Regions from separate parts of the Homo sapiens genome. Here region 2 is linked to region 1. Evidence: fine-mapped expression QTL. A gene starts in region 1. The other region holds a variant in brackets. All regions are shown on one strand. Distances are between the middles of the regions.

Region 1 (2,900 bases):
TACCAAGGAAACCTCAAGGGTTAAGTGGGGAGGAGCCATCAGAGGAGTCCCCGGTTCAAGGCTGAGCTCACACCCACCCTAAAACCCCAAGTGAACGCTAAGAAGAACCTAATGAGGCCCTCCCTTGAGCTGGATCTGTGTCCCCAACTCTTCTCCCACCTTCTCACAGTGGTCTGAGTCGTAGCTGAGGCCCAGGCCACAGTCATCAGTGATCTCAGACAGATCTTCGTCGTCAAATTCTTCCAGGCTTATGTCCTGGGGAGGCCTGGAAAGGAGACCAGGGTCAGAGAGCCACCAACCCTGGACTCCCTGCCTGGCAACTGGCCCTGAGGAGGGGCAGAGGGAGGCGTCAGCTCCTACACCCAGTGGTTTCCACAGCCCCCAGCTCTCGGAACACATCCTGCCATCATCTTGACCCCCAAGCTCTGCTCGCCTGTGGATCCCCTCCCCCATCTGAGCCAGGCCTGCCCGGAGGAGCCAACCCTGCCCCCACCCCTCCCACCCCGCCTCCCTGGAGAGCCAGCAGCCTCTCCTCCCTCCACTCGCAGCTCCAGGCCCCTGGGGTCAGGGTCTTGCAGAGCAGGGGAGGGGGAGCTGCAACGCGGCAGCGGCAGATGGGGAGGGGTCGCTCCTGCTCTGGGAAGAGAGTCTGGCCTGTTTGTCTCCCCCTCTCCGGCGGAGTGAGGCCTAAACCCAGAGGCCCAGCGTCCTCCCAACCCCAGTCCCTTCCCGCAGGGCTCCGGGCTTGATTTCCACTCTCTCCCGGCCGGGCCCTATCGGCCAGGTCTGGCGTCCACTGAAAGAGGCCAAGGCCACCGGGACACGCCGCGCCGGGAGGGTGTGCCCGCATCCCGCCCGCATCCTCCCCCGCAGAGGGTCGGCCCAGGGCCTCCACCCTTGACAGGTCAGCCGTCCAGGCCGGGCGCGGCTCAGAATCCCGGCGGGGCCCGGGGGTCACTGAGGCTGGGGACGCGCGGTGAAGATGGAGGGAGTGGGAGCGGGGTGGGGGTGGGGCGCCCGAGCCGAGGCTCAGGGACCGCAGGGGGCCGGGGCCGGGTCCGCGCCGGCGGCGGGGCTGGGGCGGCGGGGACGGGGGTCCGGGCCGGGTCGGGGTCGGGGGGGTGCGCAGGGAGCGGAGGGTCCGCCCGGCCCGGGCGCCGAGGGGGGTACCTGCAGCCCGGCGGCGACAGCGAGTGGAAGGTGGAGAGAGAAAACATCTCCGCGCGATCCGCCATCTTCTCCGGGAGAGGCCCGCGACTGCGGCGGGGGGTGCGGGAGCCTCGCCGCGCCCCGCGCCGGCGCTCGGCCCGCCCCGCTCACCTCGTGACACGCCCTGCGGCGTCCGCCCCGCGCACCTCGCCCGGACTCCGCGGCGGCGCGGGGAGGGCGGCGGGGGAGGCGGGGGAGGGACGCGGCCGGGGACGCTGGTTGGAGGAGAGGCGGCGGCTTCACTGCCGGGCGCTGGTTGGGGAAGGGCCGGGCGTGCGATGAGGATTTTTCCCGGGGAGGGGCGGGAGGGAAGGGGCGGGCGGGTGGGCGTCGGGCCCCGCCCTGGAGGACCCGCGCGGGGCGGGAGGCCGAGGAGGCAGCGCCGGGGTCCGCGGGCCTCGGGTTCGCCGTGGGCTGTTTCCTCTGGGCGAGAGGCCGGGGCGGCCCCGGGAGCTGCGCCGCCGCGCCCAGGATCCCCCCAGGAACCCTAACCCGGGTGCGGCCCGGAGCGGGGTGGCGGGCGAGGCGGGAGGCGCGGGAGGAGCTGTCCGCCGTCGGGTGCTGATCGGAGCTGTCCCCACGGGGTGCTGACCGGGGCTGCACGGGGACGTCTGCACGAGGGTCGCCGAGCAGGGCTGGATTCAGAATCGAGCACAAGGTACTCAGAGGATGCTGGCTGGGGCTAAAAGTGGACTTTGAGCACTCAGTAGAGACTGCACAGCCGGACGGACGTACCGACGGGCACTGGGAGAAGTTAGCACCCACGGAGGCGACATGCGTCCCACTGGAAACACTTTTTCTTGGGCACCGTGTTGCTGGGCCCTGTGTAGGGAACTGACCCGCTCTGGCTTGGGATGGAGCCCTGTGGGGAGGGCCATGGTTGAAGCTGAGCTCGAGACGGTGGCTGTGGGAGGAGGCGGGAGATCAGGGTTGAGGGCGCAGAACTAGGGAGAGACTGCAGGACACTTTTTTTCTTTCTAAAATAGAGACCGGTGGCTGGGCGCGGTGGCTCACGCCTGCAATCCCACCACTTTGAGAGGCCAAGGCGGGTGGATCACGACGTCAAGAGATCGAGACCAGAGACCATCCTGGCCAACATGGTGAAACCCCGTCTTTACTAAAAATACAAAAAAATTAGCCGGGCGTGGTGGCGGGCGCCTGTAGTCCCGGCGACTTGGGAGGCTGAGCCAGGAGAATCATTTGAACCCGGGAAGCGGAGGTTGCAGTGAGACGAGATTGCGCCACTGCACTCCAGCCTGGCAAGAGCAAGACTCCGTCTCAAAAAAAAAAAAAGAGAGAGAGAGAGACCGGCTCTCTCTGTATTGCCCAGGTTGGTCTCAAACTCCTGGGCTCAGCTATCCTCTGGCCTCAGCCTCCCAAAGTGCTGGGATTACAGGTGTGAACCACAGCACCTGGCTAAATATTGGCTAAAGAAGGAGGCTGGCATTTCAACAAAAGCGCAATCCCTTTTCCCCCTTGATGAAAGTTATGTGCCCTAAGATTTCTTTATGTCTTAGTTCTGCGGAAAATTCTTTTTTTTTTTTTTTTTTTTTTTTTTTTTTTTTTTTTTGAGACAGAACTTGCTCTGTTGCCCAGGCTGGAGTGTAGTGGCACGATCTCAGCTCACTGTAACCTCCACCTCCCGGGTTCAACCGATTCTCGTGCCTCAGCCTCCCGAGTAGCTGGGATTA
Region 2 (2,900 bases), 150 kb before region 1:
GAGAGTGGGGGCCAATATTCAACATTCTTAAAAGAATTTTCAGCTTTCCACAGCGCGGGGGAACGGGAGGCCGCAGGATGGTCAAGCTGACGGCGGAGCTGATCGAGCAGGCGGCGCAGTACACCAGCGCGGTGCGCGACCGGGAGCTGGACCTCCGGGGGTATAAAATTCCCGTCATTGAAAATCTAGGTGCTACGTTAGACCAGTTTGATGCTATTGATTTTTCTGACAATGAGATCAGGAAACTGGATGGTTTTCCTTTGTTGAGAAGACTGAAAACGTTGTTAGTGAACAAAACAGAATATGCCGTATAGGTGAGGGACTTGATCAGGCTCTGCCCTGTCTGACAGAACTCATTCTCACCAATAATAGGCTCGTGGAACTGGGTGATCTGGACCCTCTGGCATCTCTCAAATCGCTGACTTACCTAAGTATCCTAAGAAATCCAGTAACCAATAAGAAGCATTACAGATTGTATGTGATTTATAAAGTTCCGCAAATCAGAGTACTGGATTTCCAGAAAGTGAAACTAAAGAGCGTCAGGAAGCAGAGAAAATGTTCAAGGGCAAACGGGGTGCACAGCTTGCAAAGGATATTGCCAGGAGAAGCAAAACTTTTAATCCAGGTGCTGGTTTGCCAACTGACAAAAAGAAAGGTGGGCCATCTCCAGGGGATGTAGAAGCAATCAAGAATGCTATAGCAAATGCTTCAACTCTGGCTGAAGTGGAGAGGCTGAAGGGGTTGCTGCAGTCTGGTCAGATCCCTGGCAGAGAACGCAGATTGGGGCCCACTGATGATGGTGAAGAAGAGATGGAAGAAGACACAGTCACAAACGGGTCCTGAGCAGTGAGGCAGATGTATAATAATAGGCCGTCTTGGAACAAGTCTTGCTTTTCAAACATAGTATAATAGCCTTGTTTGTGTTAGCAAAGTGGAATCTATCAGCATGGTTGAAATGCTTAAGACTGCTGCTGATAATTTTGTAATATAAGTTTTGAAATCTAAATGTCAATTTTCTACAAATTATAAAAATAAACTCCACTCACTGTGCTACCAAAAAAAGAAAAAGAAAAGAATTTTCAACCCAGAATTTCATATCCAGCCAAACTAAGCTTCATAAGTGAAGGAGAAATAAAATACTTTACAGACAAGCCAATGCTGAGAGATTTTGTCACCACCAGGCCTGTGCTAAAAGAGATCCTGAAGGAAGCACTAAACATGGAAAGGAAAAACCAGTACCAGCCACTGCAAAAACATGCCAAAATGTAAAGACCATCAAGGCTAGGAAGAAACTGCAGCAACTAACAAGCAAAATAACCAGCTAACATCATAATGACAGGACCAAATACACA[C/T]ATAACAATATTAACTTTAAGTGTAAATGGGCTAAATGCTCCAATTAAAAGACACAGACTGGCAAATTGGATAAAGAGTCAAGGCCCATCAGTGTGCTGTATTCAGGAAACCCATCTCATGTGCAGAGACACACATAGGCTCAAAATAAAGGGATGGAGGAAGATCTACCAAGCAAATGGAAAATAAAAAAAGGCAGGGGTTGCAATCCTAGTCCCTGATAAAACAGACTTTAAACCAACAAAGATCAAAAGAGGCAAAGAAGGCCCATTACATAATGGTAAAGGGATCAATTTAACAAGAAGAGCTAACTATCCTAAATATATATGCACCCAATACAGGAGCACCCAGATTCATAAAGCAAGTCCTTAGTGACTACAAAGAGACTTAGACTCCCACACAATAATCATGGGAGACTTTAACACCCCACTGTCAACATTAGACAGATCAATAAGAGAGAAAATTAACAAGGATACCCAGGAATTGAACTCAGCTCTGCACCAAGCAGACCTAATAGACATCTACAGAACTCTCCACCTCAAATCAATAGAATATACATTTTTTTCAGCACCACACCACACCTATTCCAAAATTGACCACATAGTTGGAAGTAAAGCACTCCTCAGCAAATGTAAAAGAACAGAAATTATAACAAACTGTCTCTCAGACCACAGTGCAATCAAACTAGAACTCAGGACTAAGAAACCCACTCAAAATCGCTCAACTACATGGAAACTGAACAACCTGCTCCTGAATGACTACTGGGTACATAACGAAATGAAGGCAGAAATAAAGATGTTCTTTGAAACCAACGAGAACAAAGACACAACATACCAGAATCTCTGGGACACATTCAAAGCAGTGTGGAGGGAAATTTATAGCACTAAATGCCCACAAGAGAAAGCAGGAAAGATCCAAAATTGACACCCTAACATCACAATTAAAAGAACTAGAAAAGCAAGAGCAAACACATTCAAAAGCTAGCAGAAGGCAAGAAATAACTAAAATCAGAGCAGAACTGAAGGAAATAGAGACACAAAAAACCCTTCAAAAAATTAATGAATCCAGGAGCTGGTTTTTTGAAAAGATCAACAAAATTGATAGACCGCTAGCAAGACTAATAAAGAAGAAAAGAGAGAAGAATCAGACCCAATAAAAAATGATAAAGGGGATATCACCACCGATCCCACAGAAATTCAAACTACCATCAGAGAATACTACAAACACCTCTATGCAAATAAACTAGAAAATCTAGAAGAAATGGATAAATTCCTCTACACATACACCCTCCCAAGACTAAACCAGGAAGAAGTTGAATCTCTGAATAGACCAATAACAGGCTCTGAAATTGTGGCAATAATCAATAGCTTACCAACCAAAAAAAGTCCAGGACCAGATGGATTCACAGCCGAATTCTGCCAGAGGTACAAGGAGGAGCTGGTACCCTTCCTTCTGAAACTATTCCAATCAATAGAAAAAGAGAGAATCCTCCCTAACTCATTTTATGAGGCCAGCATCATCCTGATACCAAAGCCTGGCAGAGACACAAC

The links.
Region 2: its variant is fine-mapped to the expression of MAPK8IP2 in tibial nerve (GTEx, PIP 0.95).

The regions. Positions count from the first base shown.
Region 1 is chr22:50,599,154-50,602,053 of GRCh38, reverse strand. It overlaps MAPK8IP2 (mitogen-activated protein kinase 8 interacting protein 2), which reads right to left and starts at 1,261. Exons shown (of 12, transcript NM_012324.6): 1 at 1,171-1,261; 2 at 160-265. The coding sequence starts at 1,235. RefSeq lists an enhancer at 382-882 and a silencer at 1,672-1,851.
Region 2 is chr22:50,752,611-50,755,510 of GRCh38, reverse strand. It overlaps the pseudogene SNRPA1P2. Among named protein-coding and RNA genes, the nearest start is that of ACR, 16 kb to the right of the region's middle. The variant C/T (reference allele first, on the strand shown) is at 1,353.